Linked DNA regions of Homo sapiens: all the other regions are linked to region 3. Evidence: fine-mapped expression QTL. A gene starts in region 3. Each other region holds a variant in brackets. All regions are shown on one strand. Distances are between the middles of the regions.

Region 1 (4,241 bases), 21 kb after region 3:
ATCCAGAGCAGGGAAGTCAGATGGGCAGGGATAGAAGGCAGCAGAAAGATAAAGAGGACCCAGATCATGTGGGCTTGGTGAGGGCTTTGGTTATTTGGGGCATAAAGCAAAGCTATTAGAGGGTTCTGTGCAAGAGAGTCATACGACTTTATTTACATCTTTGATTCTGGTCACTGCTAGGTGGACATCTGACTCTAGGGAGGTAAGAACAGAAGCAAGGAGACTATTGCAATGCTCCAGAAGATAGAGTCAATGGTGGATTTCCAAGAGCAGAACCACAAAGAGTGATTGGGAGTAGGACTGACCAATAATATTCGGTTTCAAGAGTAATGATTTTCTTTCATAGCCAACATTGAAGCCGCGTCTGACTCCTAATTCAGAGTTAGAAAGCCACAAGACCTCCAAGTTCTCTCCTCTCCTCTCCTGGACACATTATAGATTTTTCAGTATCCTCAACTGAATGCAAGACTGTGTTCCGGCTAGTGCAGTATGCAGGAGACTATGACCCAGGGGAGGCATGTCACATAATCATTAAGAATAGAGAGACTTGGCTTCTAACTTGGCTAGATTTCTTAGTAGCTGTATGACTTTGGGTACATTCTGTCATCCCTCAGAGCCGCTGTTTTCTTACATGAGAAATAAAATTAATGGCCCCTAAAGAGTTGTGTGTGGGACGGGTGCAGTGGCTCACGCCTGTAATCCTAGTACTTTGGGAGGCCGAGGCGGGTGGACTGCCTGAGCTCAGGAGTTTGAGACCAGCCTGGGCAACACAGTGAAACCCCTTCTCTACTGAAATATAAAATACAAAAAACTAGCCCAGTGTGGCAGTGGGTGCCTGTAGTTCCAGCTACTCGGGAGGCTGAGGCAGGAGAATCACTTGAACCTGAGAGGCGGAAGTTTCCATGAGCCGAGATCGTGCCACTGCACTCCAGCTTGGCGACAGAGCGAGAGCGAGACTCCATCTCCAAAAAAAAAGTAAATGTAGCGTGAAGATTAAAAGGTTACTCAGGTAAAGCTCTTACAACTTTAGCAGAAACAGAATAAGCTCTCAATATTTGTACCATATAAATGTGACATGGTGGGTGTGTAAAACTCCTGCAAGGAGTACTGTGATTGGCCTAACATCAGATGCAAACACAGCAATGGCTTCATGCAGTTTAGTGGGTCAAGAGAGCCACACCTCTGCCTCCAAGGGAGACACACCTCTGCCTCCAAGGAAGACCAGTAAAGGCACTCTCCTCAACTCAGCATCTGGCCTAATCCGCATTTCCTCATTGCTGTTTTCTGATGTTGCCTCTGCTCTTGTTAATCAGGAAGCACAGACCAGTCATGCTTGTGTTGCTCCACTGTCAGTCCTCCAGAGCCTCAAGAGATCTTTGGGCCATATCAGCTTTCTTTCCAAAATGAACACACCCAGGGGCAGGAAAGAATGCTCTTTCCTTGGTCATTAAGGGGCCTGGGAGTCCTGGACCAGCTTTTCATGCAGCTAGACCACTTACATGCAACTAGAGCCTTGACTTTGAAACGAGGGACAAAAGCATCTCTTGCTAAAGGTAACTTCTGCTGCTTAGAACCCAGGTATGGGGAACTTCTTTCATGTCTCTGTGTTTAGCCTCGAAGTGCCTCTGGGAGTCTTGTCAAAGGTACAGAGTACTGAAGGATCCAGGGCTGCTTACAAGGGTGCAGGTTGGTGATCTGCTTATCCACTGTGTAGGGACAACTATTGAATCACACATCAAGGATCCTGAGAGAAGGAGGGTTGTGAACAACTGGTTCTCATTGTGGAGTGTCTGTGATATTCTTGGGGACTGTTCTGGTGCCCTAACTAGAAAACCAGAGGCAGATGATCCCTAATAGTCAAAGCACCTTGTGGGGCCCTCAGTGGCCATGTGCATGATCCTTACAGATGTCTCTTTGGATGAGGAATGGAAGAAGATGGGCTCAGTGAGGCAGGTTAGCTACAAATTACTTAGGAGTGTTCAGCTTCAAGTCAGGAAAAGTGGTGATTAACCTGCTGTGTGGAGGGCTAAAATGGAGATACACACACACACACACACACACACACACACACACACAGACACACACACGCACTCTGTCTCTCCCTCCTTCCTCTCAACCCAGAGACTCAGAGTACTAGAAGGTGCCCGTGGTGATGTGTTGGAACCTCCTAACAATCCCAGATGTGATTAATGGAAAGCATACCAAGACCATCACAGCCTAGAGAAGCAGGACTGTGCCAGCCACAGCAGAGATGGGAGCTTCCTTTTAGGGTTTTCTGGCCTTGAAATGTCCTGTACCCATCCTTATTCTCAAATATGCATCTAGGAGAGGCTCTCAGGGCAGCTCTCTCTAAAGAATTTTTACAGTAAAATTTTAGGGGGAGAGGAGAAAAAAGCATAACATGTTTCTTCTCTCCTTCTCTCACATGGCCAACTGTTAACAGCCTCCTCACCACCATCTGATCTATCTTGTTCTCTTCACAAAAGGCTCTGAAGACATCATGAACCCACAACGTAAGTGGTGAATTGCAAATCAGCTTGGAAATATCTCCATCTGACCTCATCAAAGACAATAGGATGGAAGGACCCCTATCATTTGCTAAGCTATAAATGTATTT[G/T]CTCTTGCTAAAACACTCAGTTCCTAAAACGGCCTTTGAAAATCTCGGGGCACCTAGCTCTTTTATTATTATCTGTATTTAGAATTGCTTGTTTATTTTGATGAGAGGATTTTAAAAAACAACATATGGATAACTAATTTAAATATTATGGGGTTTTTTTTACCACCTAGACATTTTATCATTCGGAAAAAGACAAGTCACTAATAGCCCTAGAAAAAGGTGAATCTTGGGACTGTGACTGCACGTAGATCCTTTCAAATGCTTTGATTCACAAACTAGTCCCTGCCCTATTTCCCCTCCATTTATCGTTATAGCCACTACTTCTCAGAGCAATGAGACTCTCTCCAGAAACTCAAAAGCCATTAATACCAGGATGCAACTGGAGTCCTGAAGTTGATAACCTCACGTGTATTTTGTGCATTTTTGTCATCTGGCAGGGGAGGCAGCACCCAAATCCTATGCTATTCGTGATTCTCGACAGATGGTGTGGGTCCTGAGTGGAAATTCTTTAATAGCAGCTCCTCTTAGCCGCAGCATTAAGCCTGGTGAGTGACAATCAAACCCACTGTTGCTTCTTGAGGTGATGCCATCTTCACCAGGAATGAGGCTGAGCTTGCATAAGCCTGGCCCTGGACCTCACCCACTTCTAGGCACCAGCCCAACAGCCACAGGAAGGTCAAGTGAGAAAGGACACTATGATTCCCTTCCACAAAGGAAATCCCATATCTAGAAATGAGGGTGTGAAGGGTTGACAGCTCCTCTTACCAAAAGAAAATATCTTCAGATTAGAAGGGCTTATCCATTCAAACAACAGCTAACCTTCTCCTTGGAGTTTCTCTCCTTCAGGTTCCAACCATTGCTACCTGTGTCCTCAGATTCAAACTCCGTCATCTTTCCACCACCAAACCTACACAGCTTTCTAAGTTGGCATCCTCTTTTCTAATAATGGGGAAATATTCCTTTCTCCCATCAAAAGTCAGTCCATCTCAGCTTCTTTCCCTGTATCCAGAACTTCAATGTTTAATTCCTCGCTTCCCTGCAAATTCCACCTTTGTTTACTGGACCCTTTCTATCATTGTCAGACATGCTGCAACCTTCTCTTGATTCCCACATTTTCCTCCTACTAACACATTTTCTTGTGCCAATCATAGCAAAACTTCACGAGAGCTGGCTGCATAATTTGCAGTCTAACATCTGGATTACTCTTCCTACTCCCCCCCAACCTTCTATTTCACCCATGACCTTCAAATACTCAAACCCAAAGGACACTTCTTGGTCCCCATGCTATTTGGCCCTTAGCTCACTAGTGTAATGGACCATTTCCTTCTTGAATACTCTACATCTTCTCCCTTTTTTTTTTTTAAACGGAGTCTCACTCTGTCACCCAGGCTGGAGTGCAATGGCACGATCTCAGCTCTCTGTAACCTCCACCTCCCAGGTTTCAAGCAATTCTCCTGCCTCAGACTCCTGAGTAGCTGGGATTACAGGTGCCCACCACTGTGCCTAGCTAATTTTTGTATTTTTAATAGAGATGGGGTTTCACCACATTGGTCAGGCTGGTCTCGAACCCCTGACCTCGTGATCCGCCCACCTCAGCCTCCCAAAGTGCTGGGATTACAGGCGT
Region 2 (4,241 bases), 29 kb after region 3:
TTTGTGCTATAGCTTCTTCTCCTTGTCTTGGCCCATTTGCTCTCTTCTCGTCAACCAAATTCTAGGTACATAGAGGCAGAAATTTGTCTCTTTCATTTATGCACTCCCTTTAGATACCAAATCTTCCCTCCCTCTTAGCAGTTTCTCAGAATGCACTGTTGAAGCAAATTAATTTTCATTTCATGTATTAGCATCTTCCCATTAATACCAAAGTGTGTCAGGGAGAATCTTGCATTATATCAGGGCAGTCCTCAACTTCAAGAAGGGTCCAAGGAACTGGAAAGCTTCTCACAGAATATGGAGAGGAAAAACATAGAAAGGCTGCTCAGAAATTTCCCTGTCTCAATTCTTCCTCCTCTTCCCCTTATGCCAATATGGCTCCAGGGGAATGTGATGATACAAGGGCATCCACTCGGGAGGAGATGGCTGCAGAAATGAAACATAACCAAGGGTATCCCCAGGAGCTTTTAGCCAGTATCCTCTGCCTCCCTCTTGGAGGGCTCGGTGCACAGTCTGAGGGTTTGCATTTTGTCCAAGCCTTTCCCCACATGTATTTATGCATATGCACAACAGCATAGGGGCACAAGAGAAGGAGCCCAGGGAAATTCACCATTGCAAATATTTTCTCTGACAAGGTCATGACTAAGCACAAATGGCCTCAAGGATGGCCATGAGAGACTTGCAACAATGTACTTGGATACGTAGTACATAGGTTTTCTGAGAAGGGCTGCAAAGAATGTGAGTTCTGTAAATAGCTAAATGTGCAGAAAGAATCTATAGGAAGATGGTGATGAAAAATGCAATGTAATCCTGGACAGTGCTTATAAATATCAGCTTCCCAGCTATTCCAAGGGCACTGAACATGAGCAAGAGATAGACAGCCAGCCCATCTTACATCACACCACCTGTGCCCTCTGCCAGAGGAGTGAGGACATTGTGATGGTGAAGGAGGAAGAAGAGGAGGAGAAACCACAGAAAGACTCAAGAGGTGTCCTCAAATATTTTATTTGCTCTCCTGGATCGAGAGCTGTGATGTTCTTTGCTTAAATCTAAGAACCACAGGAGAAGGCACGGGATGACAGATTTCTGTTCAATCAGTATCAGAAGGCACTTCCCAAACAATGTGGGTTTCCTAAGCCTTGCAAGGAGGTAGGCTAATTCCTTGTCTATCTGTAGTATGGAAAAAATAAGGCCAACATAAACACACACACACGAAATAGAATATCGATAAATGGAGAAAGAGCACAGTGTTATTCCCCCTGTTCCAGTCTCTGAAGCACTAGTTCCTATGACCTTTTTTTTCCAGCCTATGAGATACTCTAATATTCACGGAGGTGTTGATGCTTTTGTTGCTTTCTTAAGCAAGAGTCACGGTCCTCAGGCCCAGGACTATTGAATGGTGGGTTTTTCACAGGGTGGTAGAGAGGGAGTTTACCCGTGTGACACTCAAAGATAGTTTGTCCCCTGAATCTCTTCTATTCAGAAACCTAAATGAATGCACGTCCATTTCAGAGATCCCTACATGCTTCCACCCATCTTTCTCTTCAATTTCCATCAGCATGCATATCTGCCCTGTCCTTCCCTCCACTTCAGTTTCCTTTATTCTTCAGAAGAGAAAATGTAAAAAGCTCTATAAGCTTGCAACTGAGAATCTTTGTCTCTCACTTAGGTCAATAAGTTTATTTTAACGTTGTTGATGATCTAATGTGAATTAGGGGCAAGAAAACAACACGGGTTATCAACAAGAAAGGAGGGGAGATAAATATGCAGTTAAAGAACTGATCAGTTAACTACCTTACTAGTTTGAGTCACTTACAAGTAGAA[C/G]ATTTCTGATTATAAAAAGAATACTTCAAAGTCAACTCTAGGCCGTATGGTTGGGAAGTAACACCAGAAATAAGTGAATAAACTACATGGAAACCCATAATGTCATTCCCTTAATGGTTGTCTCCTTAACTAAGGATGCAATTAAAAATGAGACAGAGACTAGCAAAGACTGTGCAGCTGACAGAGTGCCACCTCCCAATATCTAATAGCAACCATCAAAAGATCAAAAACCATACACTGATGTTCTCTATTGCTCGTACAGTTTAGCAGGTTAAATTTTGCAGATTACAGCTCTAGTTCACTAAAATCAGTTTTATCTATGCCTATAATAGCAGTGTGGCCATAATAAAAGCCACATCTAACTGACCAAGGCCAAAGCCACTAGCAATGTCTTCTCCAAACTCACCATGTAGTTTGAACCCCAAACAACAAAGCTTGTTTTTATCTCAAAGGAAGTGTCAGGATCAATAATCTGAATTATTCAACAAATATGTTTTGAGCACCTATGCTGTTCTAAGTGCTGGGGACATAGTAGTAAACAAAAAGGGGAAAATATGGCCATCCTTATGGAACTGACATTAAATGTTGAAGGTTGGTAGGTAACAGTCCCTCCTTCCAATCGCCATCCACGTTCAAACATTTAGAAACTATGTTGATGCCAAAATCAAAATCATAGCAGTGCCTTTATTATTGTTACAGCTGGATTAGGGAAGTGAGGGGTGCCTCTTAGTCTTCTGGGGCCTCAATCTAGACTTTTGGGGCAAAAACCATGCCCACCAACTCTAATTTCATTTTCTCCAGTCACTGTAATAATCCATCACTCTTCAGCAGAATCAAGTGAGTAAGGCTGAGAGGAAGGCAAACTCCAATCTCCTCCAGGAGCCTCCGTGTAGAATCTGCCCTTTTAGCCCCTATTCAATTGGTGGTTTAGCAAATGTCCACATCTTGCTAAGCCTAGGAGATACTTCTCCTTTCCTGCAGGTAGAAAGAAGTGGAAGAGTTCCTTTCAACATCACCATCTCAGGAAGAAGGACAAAGATTTCTCATCCATGCGGACCAACATAGGAATGCCAGGAAGGATGTAGAAATAAGGGGAGGAAGATTCCCATCTCTACAATCTTTGAGTGGGTTTGCTATCAATGAAATGCTACAAATGGAATAAGTTGCAGAAATTTTTCTCTTTTCTTGGGTTCTGGAGAGTTTGTAAAACAAGGACACTATGTATTTTTAAAGAGTTGGTAAATCTTACCTGTAAAGCTAGAGAAGGTCGGAGTCTTTTTAGGAGTAGATTTGGACTACATAACCTGTAAATGTGTTTTGTCCAGTCCTTAGAGTGTTTTTTAAAAAATTGTAAAGTCAAGGTTTTCATGAAAAATGGGAAGATCAGACAACATTGCTCCTGAATTCCCACAGAGCAGCAAGCTACTAGAGCTCAATCTGTTATTTCTTTTCCTGATGTACAGGGGTTAAGTCCTATGGAAGAAACAGCAGAATTATTCAAAATTATTTACATAATGTGCAATTATTCACTAGAGCATGAGGAGTGAAACGCTCTGTTTAGTATGTATAACTTAAAAGGAACACATACAATTAAAAGTAATTGAAAGACATTTCTTCTTAAAAATTCTATAATCTTACACTGGTAAAATAAACTAGTTTTTCCCATGTAATCAAGTCTATATGATATTATTTTTATAGTATATTATTTTTCTTCATCCATTTGCCTTTAACTCCCATGTGGGCTGCTCTTTATCTACCATAGGCAGAACCATATATTTCCATTCCTATGTAATAGGATCCCAGTGAGTCTTTTTCTCCCAAAAGATGCAGCAACAAAAAGTTAGGGATTATAGCCATGGAAAAGACAGTCAGTTGTTTCTTACAATGGAATAGTAATAGTCTAGGCCTCCTACTGTAGGCACCGAGTAGCCACCCTGGGTATCCACTCTTTCATCCACTGATTTGCTCAGAACAACACCTAGCTATTGTATCAGAAAATTTTCAAGCATACAGAACATAACGGGGACCACAGCATTTGAGAAACACAGCCTCTGCTAAAGCTACTTTCTTCACATGCTGTTTACACTTTTCACTTTTAAAAACGTTAATTTTTCAGTTATTAATACATCGACACATTCATCTTGAAATAAAGTTAAAATATACCAGATAAATCCAAATTCTTTCCCCCCAGATCCTAGTTCCTCTTTCTCCACCCCAATGGTAACCACTGTTATGAATTGGTGTCACTCTGGCTATTTCTTATGCATTTACGTACTCATAGGCTCTATTGGAAGCATACAATGTTGTCTTATGTGTACCCCTGTGCATCTGTATGTATGTGTCCATGTGAGTGCATGTTTCTCTAACTGGAATAATAAAATACATATTTTTCTCCAACTCACTTTTCTTTTTTTTTC
Region 3 (4,241 bases):
TGTCAGCCCATGAAAGCAGCCAGGAGGAGGGTTGTACCCTGCAAAGTCACAGGAGTGGAGCTTCCAAAGACTATGGGAACCCACCTCTTGCATAAGCATGACCTGGATGTGAGACAGAGACTCAAAGGAGGTAATTTTGAAGCGTTAAGATTTGACTGCCCCGCTGGATTTTGAACTTGCATGGGGCCTGTAGCCCCTTTGTTTTGGCCAATTTCTCCCATTTGGAATAGCTGTACTTACCAAATGCCTGTACTCCTATTGTATTTAGGAAGTAACTAACTTGCTTTTGATTTTACAGCTCATAGGCAGAAGAGACTTGCCTTGTCTCAGATGAGACTTTGGACTGTGGAATTTTGAGTTAATGCTGAAATGCGTTAAGACCCTGGGGGACTGTTGGGAAGGCATGATTGGTTTTGAAATGTGAGGACATGTGATTTGCGAGGAGCCAGGGGTGGAATGATATAGTTTGGCTGTGTCCCCACCCAAAGCTCATCTTGAGTTGTTGCTCCCATAATTCCCATATGTCATGGAAGGGACCCAGTGGGAGGTAACTGAATCATCAGGGCAGGTCTTTCCTGTGCTATTCTCATTCTAGTGAATAAGTCTCATGAGACCTGATGGTTTTATAAAGGGGCATTCCCCTACACAAGCTCTCTTCCCTCCTGCCATGTAAGATGTGACTTTGCTCTTCCTTCATCTTCCATCATGATTGTGATGCCACCTCAGCCATGTGGAACTGTGAGTCAATTCAATCTCTTTCCTTTACAAATTACTCAGTCTCAGGTATGTCTTTATTAGCAGTGTGAGAACAGACTGATACAGAGAGGAAGTTTAACTGCCCTTCTCTTGAGTATGGACTGGACTTAGTGACTTTTTTCTAATGAGTATGTTACATGGTGAACATGGCAGCATGTCACTTCTGAGACCAGGTCATAAAAGGCATTGCAGTTTCCTCCTTGCTCTTAGAACACTCACCTGGATGAAGCCAGCTGCCATCTAATAAGGATATTCAAGCACCCCTATATAGAAGCCCACATGGTGAGAAACTGTGGTTTCCTGCCAATGGTCTGAGTGAGCAATCTTACAAACAGATCCTTCAGTCCCAGTCAAGCCTTCAGATGACTGAAACCTTGGCTGACATCTTTCCTACAACCTAATCAGACACCCTGAGCCGAACCCTCCAGCCAAGCCAGTTTTCTTATTCCCGACTCTGTCTTTGTTAAATAATTTTTTTGTTTGTTTTAGGTCGCTAGGTTTGCTGTTACACAGCAATTAGTAACTAATACAGTTTGACATCACTATTGGGAAGTTTCTACTCCTGTTGTTTTTTCATTTTCCACTGTCTTCGGTGGGTATGCTCTCTTCTCAGCAAACATCTCAGTTCTTCATGGGCTTTATATGCCCTGGAAAGTGTCACAGCCTGCAGAGAAGCAATGTTCCCTGTGGTGACTTATCCTCACCTTTGTGAGAATGGCAATAACCCTGGAGGTAGATGTGGCCTCTGCTCTTGCTGTAGAGATGACTTAGGGCAGGTGTATTCACCTATATGAGAATGTAAGCAGAGTTTATTATGGTAAGATAGTAAATTCCTGTTAGGGAGATAAATTTAGTAATAATTAAAGTAACTGATATTCACTTGGTGCCCACTATGTCCCTAGAATTCTATAGCACTTCCCACAATGTGTTCCATGAGACTCCAATAGAGAGATAATGAGCAGCAAGTATTCCCGGCGGCTTAGGGTGGTGTGAAATCACGCTGAGAATCCTGCTTCTCCTCAGGTCCTGGTAGTTTCAGGGCCCCTCCCTAGGCCTTACTTAAAAGGCTGAGGCATCCTTGGAAGAGCAGGCAGACTCCACGGATCCCACCAGGAGAAAGGAGCATTCTGAGGTATGCTCTAGGGCACTGGTGGGACTGGAGCTCTCTCCTCATTTCAGACCCAGAATCTCCTGCTCTGTGGAAGCTGTTCTCATGCTGGGGGACTCAGTGTGGCTGCTTGACTGGATGAGACAGAGGATGTGAAGAGCCAGGTTGGCATCTAGCACAAACCCACAGACACGGGTTCCTCCCCACTCTGTCTTTCTCACCTCTCCTTCACTTTTCCTAGGTATGTAAAGAAGACATTAAGAACACGGCAAAGGCCAAATTTACATTGACTTAAATCTAAGACTGGTTCATGACCAAAAATGCATGTAGCTAGCATGGCTTTCCCAACGCAGAGAGAAAAAGGCATGGACTCAGCTCCAACAGACTGGCGTAATGAGTGCAGAATATGCTGTGAGGTTTTAAATTTGCTGACAAGAAAGGTTAACGTTTGTTACACATTCACTCTGTCAGGTACAGTGATAAAAGCAATATAGCTATTATGTTGCCTCATTCCCACATCAGTCCTCTAAGGTAAGTGCTATGCTTATTCCCATTTAACTGATAAGACAAAACGAAAATTAGAGAGGCTAAGTCACCTAAGGTCACAAAACTAGTAAGAGATGGACCTGGTATTGGTACTCTTGCAGCTTGACTTCATACTAATTCACACCCATTCCCCAATATGAAAAATAAGCTGTGTAATGCTTATAAATTCACACATTTGGAATAGAAGGCAGAGCTCGAGGCTGGGGGAATGAAGGAGTCTGCACAAAGGACCAACAGGCTTTCTAAGAAGATAATAGAAACCAGCCAGGTGCAGTGGCTCGCACCTGTAATCCCAGTACCTTGGGAGGTAGAGGCGGGCAGAACACTTGAGGCCAGGAGTTCAAGACCAGCCTGGCAAACATGAAGAAACCCCGTCTCTACTAAAAATACAAAAACTAGTTGGGCATAGTGGTGCACACCTGTAATCCCAGCTACTTGGGAGGCTGAGGCACGAGAATCACTTGAATCCCAGGAGGTGAAAGTTGCAGTGACCTGAGATCATGTCACTGCACTTCATCCTGGGCAACAGAGCAAGACTCTGTCTCAAAAAAAAAAAAAAGGAGAGAGGGAGAGAAGATAATAGAAACCAACAGAGTTGGTGCAGAGACAAAGGAGTGCCCCATAGCAGAGTGTGGCACACTTTGGGTTGGACGGAATTTATCACTCCCTGGAGTGACTTTTGGTAGCTGAGGACATCCGTGAAAGTCCTTCCTGGAGTAGGAGTGATGGTGTGCATGCACAGACACAGCCTCCAGGGAGCCGTGAGCAGAAGGGGACCTCCAGCTGCATCCAGGACTCCCTCTCCAACCCAGCCACATCAGAGGGGAAGGGTACCACTTGGCTCATAGCGCTTTCGAGAAACCCTGGATGCCAGTGAAGTCATGGGGAGGCTGTGGGCCAGGATCCACAGGGCTGCAGCTGGGTGCTGAGCCAGAGGCCAGTGGCTTTGTTGCCTGCCCTCAGCCCCGTGGCACCCTCTGCCTGGGAGGCTGGGGAAGGGCCAGGTGCACAGGCCGGGATCTGAGAGAGCGCGTGGGCAGTCCACAGGGCAGGTGAGGCTCTGAGAGAGAGTGTGGGCAGTCCACAGGGCAGGTGAGGCTCCGGTGTGTGTCACACCCACAGTTTCTGCTGACTGAGTCCCATGAACAGGGCCAGAGCCACCGGCAACTTCTGTACCCCAGATCCACATTCAGGCGCTTTCCTCGTCTGTGCCTCAGAGGCTTCCAGAGCCTGCGGACTCGCCTCCGCCGGACTGTGTAGTTTGACCATTGCTCTCCAGCAGGAAACTGGAAATAAACCCAGGGCTAGGCACTGGCTGAGCTCCATTCTCCCCGGTCCTGCGCTGGCCCCTCCGGCGGGGCCTGCCGCTCTCAGTGTGCCGGGCCAGGATCTACCGGCAGGGGGCGCTCTCCACCAGGCTAGGTCGGGAGGCCACGATGAGAGGCACGGCCTCCGATTCAAGGATCGGGAGGCCACGCTGAGAGGCACGGCCTCCGATTCAAGGATCAGGAGGCCAGGCTGAGAGGCACGGCCTCCGATTCAAGGATCGGGAGGCCACGCTGAGAGGCACGGCCTCCAATTCAAGCTCTCTTCCTCTTTTTCTGTCTCTTTCCACAAGGATCTGCAGCCCTCACCCGAGTAGCGAGCATCTAAAGCAGGACTAGACGAGGCAAGGGAGCTGCACCAGGGCTACCCCTGAGAAAGCCCCAGCTCTCCTCGGCTTTCTCAGTGATGTGTGGCTTTCGTGGGCTCCTCAAAAACAGAAACTATCTTTTTTTATTATTATTATCTGTCCCTTTTTGCTGTTTTTGATAACTTATTTATTCGATAG

What was found. PIP is the estimated chance that this variant, and not a neighbour inherited with it, causes the effect. A credible set is the group of variants that fine-mapping cannot tell apart.
Region 1: its variant is the best candidate, but not a certain one, in a credible set for the expression of IL36B in sun-exposed skin (GTEx, PIP 0.70).
Region 2: its variant is the best candidate, but not a certain one, in a credible set for the expression of IL36B in unexposed skin (GTEx, PIP 0.54).

Annotation. Positions count from the first base shown.
Region 1 is chr2:113,029,969-113,034,209 of GRCh38, reverse strand. It overlaps IL36B (interleukin 36 beta), which reads left to right. Exons shown (of 5, transcript NM_173178.3): 2 at 2,444-2,513; 3 at 3,055-3,162. The coding sequence starts at 2,501. Among named protein-coding and RNA genes, the nearest start is that of IL36B, 21 kb to the left of the region's middle. RefSeq lists a silencer at 1-118. The variant G/T (reference allele first, on the strand shown) is at 2,618.
Region 2 is chr2:113,021,342-113,025,582 of GRCh38, reverse strand. It overlaps a transcript of IL36B not described here. Among named protein-coding and RNA genes, the nearest start is that of IL36A, 18 kb to the right of the region's middle. The variant C/G (reference allele first, on the strand shown) is at 1,825.
Region 3 is chr2:113,050,681-113,054,921 of GRCh38, reverse strand. It overlaps IL36B (interleukin 36 beta), which reads left to right and starts at 2,055. Exons shown (of 5, transcript NM_173178.3): 1 at 2,055-2,105.